Linked DNA regions of Homo sapiens. The protein of the gene in region 3 interacts with the protein of the main gene of each other region in a biochemical or structural test. Each region holds a gene or a part of one and is shown on either strand. Other genes may lie near its edges.

Region 1 (3,837 bases), on a different chromosome or scaffold from region 3:
TTACATAGTACCAGTTTTGTCCTTGGAATGACTCAGTGCATTTGGTTTATATTTTTTTCAGACTTCATTAGAGGGGTGGTAGACTCGGAGGATCTCCCTCTAAACATATCCCGTGAGATGTTGCAACAAAGCAAAATTTTGAAAGTTATCAGGAAGAATTTGGTCAAAAAATGCTTAGAACTCTTTACTGAACTGGCGGAAGATAAAGAGAACTACAAGAAATTCTATGAGCAGTTCTCTAAAAACATAAAGGTTGGTGTAAATAACCATTAGTTTTCCAATTGGCCTCTTTAGTTTTTTTTTTTTTTTTTTAATTCAGAAAGTCTTTGTAAAGAACATACTTTGTTTCAGCTTGGAATACACGAAGACTCTCAAAATCGGAAGAAGCTTTCAGAGCTGTTAAGGTACTACACATCTGCCTCTGGTGATGAGATGGTTTCTCTCAAGGACTACTGCACCAGAATGAAGGAGAACCAGAAACATATCTATTATATCACAGGTAAGAGAACACTATGTTACAGTCATACACGTCGTTCTTACAATCTTGTAGGCTCTGTGGGTGTGTTTTCTACTCAGGTAGCACTGTTACAACTGGTATTGATCTAGGCAAGATAATTAACATGAACTAGGTCATTTTCTGTCTTAGGTTCTGCCTAGGTATCTGGCTAGCAAGAAAAGTCAGAGCTAGATGAAACCATTCTTAACTGTTAAAAGGTCTAAAAGTAACTTTGTAATACCTCAGGTGAGACCAAGGACCAGGTAGCTAACTCAGCCTTTGTGGAACGTCTTCGGAAACATGGCTTAGAAGTGATCTATATGATTGAGCCCATTGATGAGTACTGTGTCCAACAGCTGAAGGAATTTGAGGGGAAGACTTTAGTGTCAGTCACCAAAGAAGGCCTGGAACTTCCAGAGGATGAAGAAGAGAAAAAGAAGCAGGAAGAGAAAAAAACAAAGTTTGAGAACCTCTGCAAAATCATGAAAGACATATTGGAGAAAAAAGTTGAAAAGGTATGTGAATACAGCATTTCCTGATCATTGATACTTCTAAGGTGCTTTCAAGCTTAGTCATACATAGCCCATTTTCGCATGTTTTCAACTTAAAACAGAAAACTATGTTGTGTGTGGCTGGGCGCGGTGGCTCACGCCTGCAATCCCAGCACTTTGGGAGGCTGAGGCAGCGGATCACAAGGTCAGGAGATCGAGACCATCCTGGCTAACACGGTGAAACTCAGTCTCTACTAAAAATAGAAAAAAATAAACCAGGCGTGGTGGCACGGCCTGTAATCCTAGCCACTTGGGAGGCTGAGGCAGGAGAATCGCCTGAACCCAGGAGGCGGAGGTTGCAGTGAGCCAAGATCGCACCACTGCACTCCAGCCTGGGTGATGGAGCGAGACTCTATCTCAAAAAAAAAATTGTGCATGTAAAACATGAAATTATAACCTGTGCTCTTTGGATACCTAATGCGACATTTAAGTTGTATTTGACAGTAGATAGTATTTTGGATCTATTGAAATTTGGGTTCTACAGATTTCATTTCACAATGAAAGTTTAGGAATTAATCTTTCTAGGTTCCTAGTCATCACTTTTTGATTACAGGTGGTTGTGTCAAACCGATTGGTGACATCTCCATGCTGTATTGTCACAAGCACATATGGCTGGACAGCAAACATGGAGAGAATCATGAAAGCTCAAGCCCTAAGAGACAACTCAACAATGGGTTACATGGCAGCAAAGAAACACCTGGAGATAAACCCTGACCATTCCATTATTGAGACCTTAAGGCAAAAGGCAGAGGCTGATAAGAACGACAAGTCTGTGAAGGATCTGGTCATCTTGCTTTATGAAACTGCGCTCCTGTCTTCTGGCTTCAGTCTGGAAGATCCCCAGACACATGCTAACAGGATCTACAGGATGATCAAACTTGGTCTGGGTAAGCCTTATACTATGTAATGTTAAAAAGAAAATAAACACACGTGACATTGAAGAAAATGGTGAACTTTCAGTTATCCAAACTTGGAGCACCTTGTCCTGCTTGCTGCTTGGAGGTATTAAAGTATGTTTTTTTTAGGGATAAGTAAGGTCTTACAAGAGCAAAGAAATGAAATTGAGACTCATATGTCCTGTAATACTGTCTTGAAAGCAGATAGAAACCAAGAGTATTACCCTAATAGCTGGCTTTAAGAAATCTTTGTAATATGAGGATTTTATTTTGGAAACAGGTATTGATGAAGATGACCCTACTGCTGATGATACCAGTGCTGCTGTAACTGAAGAAATGCCACCCCTTGAAGGAGATGACGACACATCACGCATGGAAGAAGTAGACTAATCTCTGGCTGAGGGATGACTTACCTGTTCAGTACTCTACAATTCCTCTGATAATATATTTTCAAGGATGTTTTTCTTTATTTTTGTTAATATTAAAAAGTCTGTATGGCATGACAACTACTTTAAGGGGAAGATAAGATTTCTGTCTACTAAGTGATGCTGTGATACCTTAGGCACTAAAGCAGAGCTAGTAATGCTTTTTGAGTTTCATGTTGGTTTATTTTCACAGATTGGGGTAACGTGCACTGTAAGACGTATGTAACATGATGTTAACTTTGTGGTCTAAAGTGTTTAGCTGTCAAGCCGGATGCCTAAGTAGACCAAATCTTGTTATTGAAGTGTTCTGAGCTGTATCTTGATGTTTAGAAAAGTATTCGTTACATCTTGTAGGATCTACTTTTTGAACTTTTCATTCCCTGTAGTTGACAATTCTGCATGTACTAGTCCTCTAGAAATAGGTTAAACTGAAGCAACTTGATGGAAGGATCTCTCCACAGGGCTTGTTTTCCAAAGAAAAGTATTGTTTGGAGGAGCAAAGTTAAAAGCCTACCTAAGCATATCGTAAAGCTGTTCAAAAATAACTCAGACCCAGTCTTGTGGATGGAAATGTAGTGCTCGAGTCACATTCTGCTTAAAGTTGTAACAAATACAGATGAGTTAAAAGATATTGTGTGACAGTGTCTTATTTAGGGGGAAAGGGGAGTATCTGGATGACAGTTAGTGCCAAAATGTAAAACATGAGGCGCTAGCAGGAGATGGTTAAACACTAGCTGCTCCAAGGGTTGACATGGTCTTCCCAGCATGTACTCAGCAGGTGTGGGGTGGAGCACACGTAGGCACAGAAAACAGGAATGCAGACAACATGCATCCCCTGCGTCCATGAGTTACATGTGTTCTCTTAGTGTCCACGTTGTTTTGATGTTATTCATGGAATACCTTCTGTGTTAAATACAGTCACTTAATTCCTTGGCCTTACAGTGTCTCAAAGTTCTTTACAAATCTACTTAAAGCCATCCTGGCTGAGGCAGGAGAATCGCTTGAACCTGGGAGGCGGAGGTTGCGGTGGGCTGGGATTGCACCATTGCGCTGCAGCCTGAGCAGCAAGAGCGAAACTCCATCTCAAAAAAAAGATGAAAAAATCAGCCCAATAGGTAAGAGTCCCTCTGGGGACTGGGGGTGGTAATGGCTAAATAAAAGTCTTCACTTCTGAAATTTGGTGGTTCTAGAGACAAAACTTGGTTAGATAGCATATAGGATTTGCATTCTGAGCCTAACGCCATATATAAAAATGATAGGAAATGCCTGGGACTTGGATATGTGACAGTGTCTAAGGGGGCAGTGCACAGGCAGGGAGAGACCTTGTCTCAGTCTCGTGCTAAGCAGGTATTGAATGCTTGGTAAATGGCAATCACGTTTAGTCCTTTAAATTCTCTGAAAAGTTCTTAATCCCCTTCGATAATATACAGGAGGAATTACGTAAATTGAGGTCTTAGTAGTGGCTGAAT
Region 2 (7,034 bases), on a different chromosome or scaffold from region 3:
AAAGTAACTTCCTTTTCATTTTTTTAGTGGCATAGTCTAAAACTGCTCACAATCCTTTTGAAAGACTAAAGAATAGGCCAGGTGTGGTGGCTCATGCCTGTAATCCCAGCACTTTGGGAGGCCAAGGCAGGCGGATCACAAGGTCAGGAGTTCAAGACCAGCCTGGCCAACATAGTGAAACGCTGTCTCTACTAAAAATACAAAAAAAAATAGCTGGGCTTGGTGGCGGCCACCTGTAGTCCCCAGCTACTCGGGAGGCTGAGGCAGGAGAATCGCTGGAACCCGGGAGGCGGAGGTTGCAGTGAGCTGAGATGGCGCCATTGCACTCCAGCCCTGGAGACAGTGCGAGACTGTGTCTCAAAAAAAAAAAAAAAAAAAAAAAAAAAAAAGACTAAAGAATATTAGCACCAAAGAACATAGCCCAGAAGCCTTGCTGTACTACACCTGCTGAAGGGACGGATGGAAATGCTGCAGAGCAGCACTAGGCAGTGCTCAGGCACTGCCCCAAACCAGCCCACAGGCCATCGAGGCCTCCAAGGGAGTGGGAAAGGTACCTGGAGAGCCATCTCCAGAAGGAAAGAAAGAAACCAGCTGTACCAGGGTTTGCTGGAGGGGTTGCTTCACTTTGAGGATTTGCTTTTCTTTTGTACCCCCTCAAGAGCTGAGTACAAGTAATGACGCTTTTTTATCCTAGGGAGGCAAATACATGCAGGCGGTGATTCAGTATGGGAAGATAGTGTCCTGGTTAGAGATGGAATATGGTTTATCAGAAAAGGAATCGAAAGCTTCTGAATCATTTCTCCTTGCTGCCTTTCTGAACCTGGCCATGTGCTACCTGAAGCTTAGAGAATACACCAAAGCTGTTGAATGCTGTGACAAGGTAACATCGTGTCTCCTGTGAGATGGACTTTAGATACTCCAGATCTTTTCTCCATCTCTGTCTTTTGCTTCCTCTCAGCCAAAGGTTGCAGGATTTTTCATTTTGCTTTTTTTTATTTATTTGAATGTTTGGGATTATTTGTTTCTCAGTATGAATTGGGAAATTCAGCAAGATTTTTATTACAGTCAGACTTTTATGATACCTAGACTGTTTATCATAATGCATTCTGAAGAAAAGTTTTGATTAAAATTAAATAATTTTTATCCACGACCTTCCTTATAACTGTAGTATTTATATCAGAGTAGACGTATAACTCCTCAGGTTCAGTTTAATAAGAGAAGATTTAACTTAAGCTTTTCTGGACTTTAACAGACTGCAACTGTTCATATAAAGCATATATATAGGTCAATTTTTATTATAATCATTTATTCACTGATATGCATAAATAATATGAAAGGTCCACAGAGCATCAGCAGCCTTTTTATTTTTACATTTGTCTTATTAATACTATCTTTGGTCTTTTGAGTGCTTACACACAGTACTCTATAACAGTGGTTTATCATCTGTATCGTTATGTATCGTTCTGATATATTTATACACCAGCCGATACTATTTTAGGTATCTGGTCTCAGAGTGAACAGTATATATTATACTGTGGGTAAAAGTAAAAACTAATCATTGGATGTATCTTAAAGGTAGACATAAAAGGATAAGAAAAGCAAGGCAACTATTTTGTACATTCTTTGTGAGATTATTTTTGAATTTTGTGGATCAGTGTTTCCTATCGCATCCTCTCTCCCAAGACCAGTTATTAATTTTATATGTATTTTTTCGTTTTTTTCATACAGAGCGGAGAGAGAGAGAGAGAGAGTGTGTGCGCGCGCGCGTGTGTGTGTTTTGTTTGTTTTAGAGACAAGTTGTTGCTATTTTGCCCAGGCTGGGGTGCGGTGGCTATTAATACACATGAACATAATGTACTACAGCCTCAAACTCTGGGGCCCAAGCTATCCTCCCACCTCAGCCTCCTGAGTAGCTGGGACTACAAGTGCATGCCACCACACCCTGCTAATTTTTAAATTTACTTTTGTAGAGATGGGGGTCTTCCAAAGAGCTGGGATTAAAGTTGTGAGGTACCACACCCAGCACAGCCTTGACTACATTATTTTTCTGTCTTCTATTGACAGAAGCAGTCATATAGCATCACTATTAACCCTATCTTTGGCAATAGGAAGCCTGTTCTCCTTATTTTCCTCTTTTTTTTTTTTTTGGAGATGGAGTCTTTCTCTGTTACCCAGTCTGGAGTGCAATGGCACAATCTTGGCTCACTCTAACCTCCACCTCCCGAGTTCAAGCGATTCTCCTGCCTCAGCCTCCCAAGTAGCTTAGACCACAGGTGCCGACCACCACACCAGGCTAATTTTTGTATTTTTAGTAGAGACAGGGTTTCACCATGTTGGCCCGGCTGGTTTCCAATTCCTGACCTCAGGTGATTTGCCACCTCAGCTTCCCAAAGTGCTGGGATTACAGGTGTGAGCCACCACAACCCAGCAATTTTCTTTTAGCTTTGTTGATTATATCTTTCTCTTTAAAGAAGGTTTTAATGTTTATGTAGTCAGATTTGTCGTCTCCTTTCTAGTTAGAAAAGACTTCCCCACACCAAGATTATAAAAATAACTGAAGCCAGGCACAGTGGTTTACACCTGTGACCTGTAACCCCAGGACTTTCGGAGGCTGAGGCGAGAGGATTGCCTGAGCCCAGGAGATAGAGGCTGCAGTGAGCTGTGATTGAGCCACTGCCCTCCAGCCTGGGCGACAGAGTGAGACCCTGCCTCAAAAAAATAATGATTATATTTTACATATTTTAAAATAAAAAATAATTGAAACATTTTATGGTTTTTTTTAATATGTAAATATGGTTGATCTAGAATTTACTTTTGTGCTTACAATATGAGGTAAGAACTTTTTTTTTTTTTTTTTTTTGGAGACAAGAGTCTCACTCTGTCACCCAGCCTGGAGTGCAGTGGCACGATCTCAGCCCACTCCAACCTCCACCTCCCTGGTTCAAGCAATTCTCCTGCCTCAGCCTCCCAAGTAGCTGGGATTACAGGCGCCTGCCACCATGCCCAGCTAATTTTTGTATTTTCAGTAGAGACAGGATTTCGCCATGTTGGCCAGGCTGGTCTCGAACTCCTCACCTCAGGTGATCACCTGCCTCAGCCTCCCAAAGTGCTGGGATTAGGGTGTGAACCACTGCACCCGGCCTTAACTCTTATTTTCTATGTGGATAGCTGCCATCCTGGCCCCGTTTATTTTAAAGTTAACTCTCCACTGATTCACATTACCACCTTTGTCATTTTCAAATGTTTTTATATGCAGACACATGACTGTTTCTGAATGATTCGTTCTGTTCCACTGAGCTGTTTGTCCACATGCTAGTAACCAAACTGTCTTAATTTCAGTAGTTTTAAAGTTTGTCTTTTTCTCTGGTAAGACAAGTGCCTCTTATTTTTTTCTTTTTTCCCAAATTTTTTCAGCCATTCTTGGGCACTTATTTGTTCCAATGAACTTTAAAATGAACTTCTCAAGAGCCCCCTCTCAAATCTCCTTGGGATCTTTCTAGAAATTGCATTAAATGCAGAAAATAATTTGGGTAGTAAATTTTGATCAGTAGTATGTAATTATCTTGAGCCCCATTTTTTTAAATACACTTTTTCCATCTCCTTTGGCAAGAGAACTTTGGTAAGCTGTTTACTGAATTTATTAAAATTCGTCCTTTCTAAAATATAGACCATCTATTCCTAGGCCCTTGGACTGGACAGTGCCAATGAGAAAGGCTTGTATAGGAGGGGTGAAGCCCAGCTGCTCATGAACGAGTTTGAGTCAGCCAAGGGTGACTTTGAGAAAGTGCTGGAAGTAAACCCCCAGAATAAGGCTGCAAGACTGCAGATCTCCATGTGCCAGAAAAAGGCCAAGGAGCACAACGAGCGGGACCGCAGGATATACGCCAACATGTTCAAGAAGTTTGCAGAGCAGGATGCCAAGGTGTGTGCAGAGCCTGATGACTGCAGGTGGATCAAGAGCCTGACCATGCCCCTTTGATTTTAGGGGACAGGAACAGCTAAACAACCCAAGAGGCTCAAGAGCAGGGAAAACGATTTCCAATCTAATCTGAGGCTGCTTTGGATCCAAAGGTCGAGTAGGGCAGTTCCAGTCACCAAAGGCACACGTCATGAGAGATGAGAAAACTAAATTCCCTTCAGATGTATTAGATTGGTTCAAAAGTAATTGTGGTTTTTACCATTACTTTCAATGGCAAAAACAGCAATTTTGCACCAACTCCCCCCGCCCGCCCCCCGGGCCCCTGCCCGAGTCAGAGTCTCACTCTGTCACCCAGACTGTAATGCAGTCGTGCTAACATGGCTCACTGCAGCCTTGACTTCTCTGGATCAAGTGATCCTCCCACCTCAGCCTCCTGAGTAGCTAGGACAAGCACACTACCACACTGGGCTAATTTTTTAAAATTTTTTGTAAAGATAGGGTTTCACTTTGTTGTCTAGGCTGGTCTCGAACCCCTGGCTTCAAGGGTTCCTCCTGCTTTGGTCTCCCAAAGTGCTGGGATTATAGACATGAGCCACCATGCCCAGCCCTTTTGTCATTTTTGAAAAATTGTAAACCCATCAGGATTTTTTTTTCAAGTAAGACTTACGATTTTCCCAGGAAATGGGATGTTATAGGAGCCCCATCATCACACCTGTTATCTTGAGGGTCGGCAGCCAGCCTGAAAAATGTGGCAGGAGAGGTCTGTCTGCAGAGAGGGCGGCCTCCCTACAGCATAGTTGGCATTCTGGTCCTGTCCCCAGTCTCCAGGAATGCCCAGACTTCATTATCCCACAGCTGTCCCATGTGTCAACCAAAGAAAGGTGAAGCTCCCACTCTAACTATTGGTAGCACAGCCCTGACCTACCCAGCTAGATATCCTAGAGAAAATCATTGCAATACCTCGTGTTTGGGACCTGATACACAGTCTGGAGGAGCCAGGAATTATTTCACTTCTTTATTCTCTAACCTTCTTGATTGCTTATTTCTTCCTTAGGAAGAGGCCAATAAAGCAATGGGCAAGAAGACTTCAGAAGGGGTCACTAATGAAAAAGGAACAGACAGTCAAGCAATGGAAGAAGAGAAACCTGAGGGCCACGTATGACGCCACGCCAAGGAGGGAAGAGTCCCAGTGAACTCGGCCCCTCCTCAATGGGCTTTCCCCCAACTCAGGACAGAACAGTGTTTAATGTAAAGTTTGTTATAGTCTATGTGATTCTGGAAGCAAATGGCAAAACCAGTAGCTTCCCAAAAACAGCCCCCCTGCTGCTGCCCGGAGGGTTCACTGAGGGGTGGCACGGGACCACTCCAGGTGGAACAAACAGAAATGACTGTGGTGTGGAGGGAGTGAGCCAGCAGCTTAAGTCCAGCTCATTTCAGTTTCTATCAACCTTCAAGTATCCAATTCAGGGTCCCTGGAGATCATCCTAACAATGTGGGGCTGTTAGGTTTTACCTTTGAACTTTCATAGCACTGCAGAAACCTTTAAAAAAAAAATGCTTCATGAATTTCTCCTTTCCTACAGTTGGGTAGGGTAGGGGAAGGAGGATAAGCTTTTGTTTTTTAAATGACTGAAGTGCTATAAATGTAGTCTGTTGCATTTTTAACCAACAGAACCCACAGTAGAGGGGTCTCATGTCTCCCCAGTTCCACAGCAGTGTCACAGACGTGAAAGCCAGAACCTCAGAGGCCACTTGCTTGCTGACTTAGCCTCCTCCCAAAGTCCCCCTCCTCAGCCAGCCTCCTTGTGAGAGTGGCTTTCTACCACACACAGCCTGTCCCTGGGGGAGTAATTCTGTCATTCCTAAAACACCCTTCAGCAATGATAATGAGCAGATGAGAGTTTCTGGATTAGCTTTTCCTATTTTCGATGAAGTTCTGAGATACTGAAATGTGAAAAGAGCAATCAGAATTGTGCTTTTTCTCCCCTCCTCTATTCCTTTTAGGGAATAATATTCAATACACAGTACTTCCTCCCAGCATTGCTACTGCTCAGCTTCTTCTTTCATTCTAATCCTTGCTATTAAGAATTTAAGACTTGTGCTTACAATATTTTTGACCTGGAGTGGATCTATTTACATAGTCATTTAGGATCCATGCAGCTTTTTTTGTCTTTTTAAGATTATTGGCTCATAAGCATATGTATACTGGTTTATGGAACTTTATTTACACTCCTCTATCATGCAAAAAAATTTTGACTTTTTAGTACTAAGCTTAATTTTTAAAAACAAAATCTGTAGGGTTGACAAATAAATAGTTGCTCTTCTACACTAGGGGTTTCACCTGCAGGTTTGACACGCAGTTGCTCGCTTTTCCTGCCCTGTCAAGCTTCTCTGTTCTGGCGTGAGTTGTGAAAGAGTTGAAGACAGCTTCCCATGCCGGTACACAGCCAGTAGCCTAAATCTCCAGTACTTGAGCTGACCATTGAACTAGGGCAAGTCTTAAATGTGTACATGTAGTTGAATTTCAGTCCTTACGGGTAAACAGATTGAGCATGGCTCTCTATTCCCTCAGCCTAAGAAACACTCATGGGAATGCATTTGGCAACCCAAGGAACCATTTGCTTAAACCTGGAACATCTCACCTTTTTAAATCCTAAAAAACACTGGCAGTTATATTTTAAATTAGTTTTTATTTTTATGATGGTTTTATCAAAAGACTTTTATTATTAGATTGGGACCCCCTTCAAACCTAAAAATCAAGTTATTTCCTTTTATAATACTTTTCTTCCCCATGGAACAAATGGGATCAATTTGTGAGTTTTTTCCTTTAATGATAACTAAAATCCCTCTAATTTCTCATTTATGCTTTTGTCTTTTTTATGAAATATTTCTTTTAAAAGCCCCAGTCTCACCTACGAAATATGAAGAGCAAAAGCTGATTTTGCTTACTTGCTAAACTGTTGGGAAAGCTCTGTAGAGCATGGTTCCAGTGAGGCCAAGATTGAAATTTGATACTAAAAAGGCCACCTAGCTTTTTGCAGATAACAAACAAGAAAGCTATTCCAAGACTCAGATGATGCCAGCTGTCTCCCACGTGTGTATTATGGTTCACCAGG
Region 3 (7,339 bases):
ACCATATTGGCCAGGCTGGTCTTGAGCTCCTGACCTCGTGATCCACCCGCCTCAACCTCCCAAAGTGTTGGGATTACAGGCGTGAGCCAGCACGCCCGGCCCAGTTTTTCTTTTTTCTTTTGTATTTTTACTAGAGACGGGGTTTCACCATGCTGGACAGGTTGGTCTCAAACTCCTGACCTCATGATCCGCCCACCTCGGCCTCCCAAAGTGCTGGGATTACAAGTGTGAGCCACTGCACCCGGCCCAACTTGAGTATTTTCTAAACTGAAATACAAACCTCACAGTTGAAAATGAAAACAAAAGGTAGAGAAATCGTGTTTGTTTTCAGGAATGGCTTCCAGATGGTGGGCTCAAACACACCTGGGATTAAATGCCAGGTCATCTGTACAGCTGCCATGCCAGTTTGCTGTCCTAAGTCAAATATTCATTCACCATCTACCTACCTGTACATACACTTCTATCACCAGTAGTGGTAATTTAAAAACAAACATTTTAAGACCAGGCAAGGTGACTCACGCCTGTAATCCTAGTGCTAATGAAGTGGGAGGCCAAGGCTAGAGGATTGCTTGAGCCTAGAAATTCGAGACCAGCCTGGGAAACAGCAAGAGCCCCGTCTCTACAAAAAATGTTAAAATTAGCCAGTTGTGGTGGTGTGCCCAGCTACTCAGGAGAGTGAGGCAGGAGGATCGCTTGAGGCCAGGAACTTGAGGCTGCAGTGAGCTATGATCCCACCAGGGCACTTCAGCCTGGGCCACAGAACCAGACCCTGTCTCTAAAAAAAATACAAAATAAATTTGGTAACAGAAATCGTTTCTTTTCTTTTTTTTTTTTTTTTGAGATGGAGTCTCACTCTGTCACCCAGGCTAGAGTGCAGTGGCGTGATCACAGCTCACTGCAACCTACGCCTCCCGGGTTGAAGCAATTCTCCTATCTCAGCCTCTCCAATAGCTGGGATTACAGGCCTGCGCCATGACCCGCTAATTTTTGTACTTTTAGTAGAGAGGGGGTTTCACCATGTTGGCCAGGCTGGTGTAGAACTCCTGACCTCAGGTGATTCGCCCACCTTGGCCTCCCAAAGTGCTAGGATTATAAGCGTGAGCCACTGCGCCCAGCCGAGATCCTTTTTTTTTTTTTTTTTTTTGAGACGGAGTCTCGCTCTGTGGCCCAGGCTGGAGGGAGACGGAGTCTCGCTCTATGGCCCAGGCTGGAGTGCAGTGGCGCAATCTCGGCTCACTGCAAGCTGCCCCCAGGGTTCACGTCATTCTCCTGCCTCAGCCTCCCGAGTAGCTGGGACTACAGGCTCCCGCCACCACGCCCGGCTAATTTTTCTTCTGTATTTTTAGTAGAGACGGGGTTTCACTGTGCTAGCCAGGATGGTCTCGATCTCCTGACCTCGTGATCCGCCTGCCTCGGCCTCCCAAAGTGCTGGGATTACAGGCTGAGCCACGGTGCCCGGCCCCAGATCCTTTCTTAAAGGTAAAAGAGCAACGTCTTATTCCAGAAATCTTTTCCTCACCTATACTACAGCCCATTTAACCCTAGATACAACTGAAATATTATATGGGCACAAAAAAGTTTACTAACTTCATTTCCACTCTTTTTAATACAGCAAGGAAGCTCGAGCTTTGCCTAAAGCAGCAACTGCTACAAGAGACCAAAGGCTCAGCTCTGTAGCTCACACCAAAAAAAGGATGGTAGTCACTAGTCCATCGAGATGTCTTATTTAAGGGGAGAGTGTGGGCGATCTTAGTTTTATGGCCCTGAAGTAAGAACCAGATACCAGGTATAGTTTCAGAATTGTCACCCCCAAGTGTTATGGGCCCGGAGCGAAGACAGTAGTACTCCCGAGCGGGAGGATGATTTCTCGGAGGTTGGTAGAGGTTTCTTGGAGGTTGTTTTGTCCTTTTTCTTCCGATGAATCATTACAGCTCAATGACAGCTTCAAATCGAACAAAACCTCTAGGCCTTTCATAACCGCAAGCTACTGAGGACATAACCAAGTCACTGAAAGGAAGCAGCAACCGCTTCAAACTCGGCCCCTCAAATGCTCAGTAGAGGCCCATAACTTCCAGCGGTTGATCTCTGTAAATTGTCTACAACCACCCCCGGGTCGTCAGAAACCCATCTTTCAGACCCACCTTTCGGAAGTGTTGGTCCTCGGTCACTCGACAATCACACACACAAGCATACAAAAAGAGGGGGAGGGGCCGCAATACATTTGTAAAACACTGTCAGAGATGGAATTCGTCCCAAGGACTTTTGCGGCACCCTTCCCTTTCCCGCATCAGGTAGAGTCGGTCTGTCGCTCCTCAGACCCCCGCTCAACGCTCTCCCACCCTGACCTTCTCAGATGTAGAAGAGTAACATTTGCCCCAACTGCATCCCAGGCTGCTAAGATCCTCGGCTACTCCCAGTGTATCCCCGTCCCCGCTCCCTGGATCCGTCCAAGTTCCTCGTGGCTAAGTCCCGAGCGGTTTCTCCGTCGGCCGTCTGAGATCTCCCGGAGGGCTACCTCGCGGGTGCGGACCCCGGCCCCCGGCCCACCTCCACCCCGCCCCCTGCGGCCCGCACCCTCCCCAACATGGCCCGCAGCCGCCCCCTCGGGACGCCTTCAGGGCCCGGTCGCGACCCCTCTTCCCGCCGCCGGCCGGACTCACCCAAGCTGTGGCCTCCGCCGGGCCCTCCTCGCCCAACCAGGGGGCGATGGGCGCTCCCCGCGGCCGGCCTCGCTAAAGATCCCGCTCCCGCCCGCCGCCCGCGGCCCTCACCTCCCCGCCGCCGCCCCGTCCGGCCCCAGCGCCGAGCTCCGGTCTCCTGGATCCGGCGCCCGCCCCGCCCCCCTACCGCGGCCTGGCCACCGCCGGTCCCCGAGCAGGCTCGGGGCCTCAGCCCGCCCCTCCCCCTTCACCTGCTCCATAGCGCAGCGCGGTCCGGAACCCCGTTGAATCGAATCCGTCCGCTCCGCGTTCCCAACCGCACGCGCCGCCTTCTGGAACCTACTAGAAGCTACCGGGACCCCGGCTCCCGCCCCTTCCTCGCCTGCTCACTGGTCGAGTTCTTCTAGGGGGAATGTCTGTGCTGCTCTACTATTGGCTTGAGGTCCAGCCCATCATCTCCACTTCCTTCTCATTGGACAGCGGGGAGTAATTCCCTCAACCCTGCCTCCCCCGCACCTCAGGATTGGGCGCTCCTCTATAAACCCACCCATCTCAGGCTCCACGAATGGAGGGAGGAGCGAACTTCTGCGACACGGATTGGTCTTTTGCACTGCCAATCGTAGCCGCGCTGGCCGCGCCCATTGGTTCTGATCGTTCTGGAAATTTCCACCTCTCCCATTGGGCTGCCGGACTCCATGTCGGAACCGCCTTCAGAATGAGAGCGATTCCAATTGGGCGGAGGGTTGCCAACTCTTTGCGCTGATTGGTTTAAATCGCTGCCCTTCAAAAGGCCGGGTTTCGCCCCGCCCCTGATATATGGGAGTACCGGCTGCAGTCGGGGTCTGTAGCTGTGTCGCCGGCGGCTGCGGGGCCTCTGGGTTGCTTTCCCTCTCGCTCCCGAGTGCCGCGAGTTCCAGGCGGTCCCCGGGATCGCCAGCGGCACAGGGCCCCAGCCCTTCGCCCGCGCATCGGGATGGGGGTCCTAGCCGGTGGGAGCTGCCTGTCCCTCGAGCGCCAGCTACCCGCGTTGTCCAGCGCTCCGGCCTCGGCCCGGCCCTCCTGCCTCCTGGCTGTTAGGTTCTGAATGTTCCGGAAATGCCACGTGACCGCGAGGGCGCTTGGGCTTGGGCTGGACAGGCCGGGGATCTCACCGCGGCGGGCCCGGCTGTCCCGCTTGGGCGTCCTCAGTGGAACCGCACACCCTTTCTCAGCGCGCCGGTCGTTTGGTCCTGTAGGGCCGAGGGGAATTCGTGCGGTGTTGAGCACGCGGGAAGCACTTAACGAAAGGGAGCTGCCCCTCAGCCCTCGTGAGTCCGATGTAAAGGAGTGAAGGAGACGAAGAACTGAATCAGTAGTTGACCGCCTGTGAGCTGGCGAGCTGTGCCCTGGTAGGGCCTTAAATCCCAGCCCCAGAAGTCGGAGGCAGGGCAGGCACCCCAAAGCGTGGAAGAGATGCACCTGCGGAGTGAAAATGCTGCTATTGCTTCTAGGGTCAGCCTTGGTTCCTGGAACAAAGGAGCCGCATGACTCGGGTCTGGCGATGATGTTGGGCTCTGCAGTGTCCTCATCCTTCCCCCTCTCTGGGTAATGATATCTTCCCAGGGTTTAAAGTGTGTCCTCTCTGCCAGTAGCTTGTCTCCACAGCCTCATCTTTAATTCCACCTGCCCCACCCATTTTGGACACTGCAGCCAAGTTGCAGCAGATCCGCAAACCTGGTAATCCCTCACTTGAAAGTGCTGGAGGCTTTAGGATGGGGTTCAGGGCCTGTGCAATCTAACCGCCTGCTTTTTTTTTTTTTTTTTTTTTTTTTTTTTTGAGACGGAGTCGAATCTCACTGTCTCCCAGGCTGGAGTGCAGTGGCGCCATCACAGCTCATTGCAGCCTCAACCTCCTGAGCTCAAGCCATCCTCCCACCTCAGCCTCCCAAGTACCTGGGGTTACAGGCAAGCACCATTACGCCTAGCTAATTTTTCTGGGTTTTTTTTTTTTGTTTTTTTTTTTGTATAGATGGATTTCGCCATGTTGTCCAGGCTGGTCTTAAACTCTCGCTCTGTCTCCCAGGCTAGAGTGCAGTGGGGCAATCTCGGCTCCCTGCAACCTCTGCCTCCTGGGTTCAAGCAATTATCCTGCCTCAGCCTACCAGTTAGCTGGGATTACATGTGTGCGCCACCGCGCCCGGCTAATTTTTTTATTTTTAGTAGAGGCGGGGTTTCACCATGTTGACCAGGCTGGTCTCAAGACTACTGACCTCAAGTGATCCCCCCCCCCCCCCGCCTCGGCCTCCCAAAGTGCTGGGATTACAGACGTGAGCCACCGTGCCCAGCGGTTTTGCATTTTCAATTGTGGGGCACGGTGAGAAAAGACTTGAAGAAAGCAAGGGAGTGAGATCCATGGAAATGTAGGGGGGAACCTTGCAGGCCTATGGAACAGCCAGTGCAAAGGGCCTGGGGTGGGAGCTGCCTCAGGGTAGCCAGGATGGCAGGAGGCACAGCTGCCGAGAGGAAGCAGGGGCCAGGTCCTGCAAGGTTAGAGGCCATTGCTACTCCTGAACACATTGGCAGGTTTTGAGCAGAGAAGTGACATGATTTTAGTTTTCTCAGGATCCCTCTGGCTGCTGTGTGGAGGAAGAGGGGAGGGTGAGAGCAGGGATACCTCTTAGGAGGCTGTGGTAGTAATCCCAGGGAGCCAGGATGGGAGCAGAGGAGGGGACAGGAATTGGATTCTGGATGCATTTTGGAGGGAGCATGAAGGAAAGCGGGGTCAAAGGTTCCTCTGAGGCCTTGGCTGCCTCTCTTATTCATCTACATCCATTCTGTCAAGGACACCTTTCATTTCTTCTTGGCACTGTCTCAAGGCCACCACGCTGCTGCCCACCTGACCAGCAGTGGCCTTTCCAGGCCTTCCATCTTCTCCCCAGCAGCTTATCTCTGCGTAGCCAGGTCCCATTTCCCACACACCTTTTTTTAAAGTGTGTTGCACTGCTCTGGGTGCAGGACTGTAGCAGTGACCAGGGCAGCTCCAGATGAAGCTTCTGCTCACAGGAACCTTTTCTACTGAAACAGATGATACCTAAACTCTCAGCTGTGTGACTTTAAGCAACTTGCACAACCTCTCTGTACTTCAGTTGCCTCCATCTTCAAATGGGGATTAAAAAGTGTTGACATCATAGTGGTTGTGAGGATTACATGATTTGATAGTTTATAAAGCACTTAGAACTTGTGAAGAAGAGTGCCTGGGGATTGCCTAAGGTCAGGAGTTCAAGACCAGCCTGGCCAACATGGAGAAACCTCATCTCTGCTAAAAATACAAAAACTAACCACGCATGGTAGTGCACACCTCTAGTCCCAGCTACTTGGGGGGCTGAGGCAGGAGAATCACTTGAACCTGGGAGGTGGAGATTGCAGTGAGCCAAGATTGCGCCACTGCACTCCAGCCTGGGCAACAGAGCAAGACTCGGTCTCCAAAGAAAAAAAAAGAACTGCCTGGCTACGGAATAAGAACTACATGGAGTTATTAAATCAAAATCGGTGCACAAATGATAATTCTTAAGAGTGAGTGCTACAGAGAACACAAAAGGCAAGGCACAGAGAGATGACCTGGGAGGCAGGGAAGGAAAGCATTCCCAGAGGTGAGTGGTTAGTGAAGGCTTGTCAGAGATGGGACGAGGAGAAGCCTAGGGGGCACAGAAGATGCAAAGGTGCTGAGGCCAGGGCAAATTCAGAATTTTTTTTTTTTTTGAGATGGAGTCTCGCTCTGTCTCCCAGGCTGGAGTTCAGTGGTGCAATCTCGGCTCACTGCAACCTCCACCTCCTGGGTCCAAGCAATTATCTGCCTCAGCCTCCAGAGTAGCTGGGATTACAGGCATCCACCACCACGCCCGGCTAATTTTTGTGTTTTCAGTAGAGACAGGATTTCACCATCTTGGCCAGGCTGGTCTTGAACTCCTGGCCTCATGATCCACATGCCTCAGCCTCCCAAAGTGCTGGGATTACAGGCGTGAGCCACCGCGCCCAACCCAGAATTCTCTTTTTTTGGGGGGGGGTGGGGGACAGAGTCTCACTCTGTCATCCAGGCTGGAGTGCAGTAGCGCGATCTTAGCTCACTGCAACCTCTGCCTCCCAGGTTCAAGCGATTCTGCCTCAGCCTCCCGAGTAACTGGGATTATAGATGCCCGCCACTACGCCTGGCTAATTTTTTTTTTTTTTTTGTATTTTTAGTAGAGATGGGGTTTTACCATGTTGGCCAGGCTGGTCTCAAACTCATTACCTCCAGTGATCCACCTGCCCTGGCCTGCCAAAGTGTTGGGATTACACAGGCGTGAGCCACCATGCCTGGCCCTGGCCCAGAATTTTCAAGAAATCTAAGGAAGGCTTTTTTGTGCTCTAAGTGTCCTTGTCTGTAAGGTAGGGGGGATAAAGTGCCCTTGACTTCCCAAGGTTACTATGCAGATTGAACAATATAATCCTCCCGGGTTGGCCTTGAGTCTTGTCAGACCTGAAGCTTATGACAATTTGAGAGCTCGCTTTGAGAAAAGAAACACAAAAAATGAGGTGTGTGGCTTTAGAAGGAGCACAAATGGGGTCCCCGATGTTTAAGCTGCTTTAGTGTTACAGTAAAGCCACCTCTGAATACCCAGAAGTGTTAGCTCTTACAACTTCCACCAACTCAGTCTTCTCCA

Evidence for each region.
Region 1: the proteins of STIP1 (region 3) and HSP90AA1 form a complex in vitro, tested with the Homo sapiens proteins (9 studies listed by BioGRID).
Region 2: the proteins of STIP1 (region 3) and FKBP5 form a complex in vitro, tested with the Homo sapiens proteins (one study listed by BioGRID).

What each region holds. Positions count from the first base shown.
Region 1 is NC_000014.9:102,080,208-102,084,044, reverse strand, and holds the end of HSP90AA1 (heat shock protein HSP 90-alpha), read left to right. Parts: intron 1-61; coding exon 62-252; intron 253-351; coding exon 352-499; intron 500-742; coding exon 743-1,011; intron 1,012-1,600; coding exon 1,601-1,934; intron 1,935-2,223; coding exon 2,224-2,333; 3' UTR 2,334-3,303; downstream 3,304-3,837. UniProt on the Homo sapiens protein: Molecular chaperone that promotes the maturation, structural maintenance and proper regulation of specific target proteins involved for instance in cell cycle control and signal transduction.
Region 2 is NC_000006.12:35,573,882-35,580,915, reverse strand, and holds part of FKBP5 (peptidyl-prolyl cis-trans isomerase FKBP5), read left to right. Parts: exon of another isoform or gene 1-359; intron 360-694; coding exon 695-880; intron 881-3,682; coding exon 3,683-3,922; intron 3,923-4,973; coding exon 4,974-5,081; 3' UTR 5,082-7,034. UniProt on the Homo sapiens protein: Immunophilin protein with PPIase and co-chaperone activities. Component of unligated steroid receptors heterocomplexes through interaction with heat-shock protein 90 (HSP90).
Region 3 is NC_000011.10:64,181,843-64,189,181, reverse strand, and holds the start of STIP1 (stress-induced-phosphoprotein 1), read right to left. Parts: upstream 3,012-7,339; 5' UTR 2,921-3,011; coding exon 2,912-2,920; intron 1-2,911. UniProt on the Homo sapiens protein: Acts as a co-chaperone for HSP90AA1. Mediates the association of the molecular chaperones HSPA8/HSC70 and HSP90.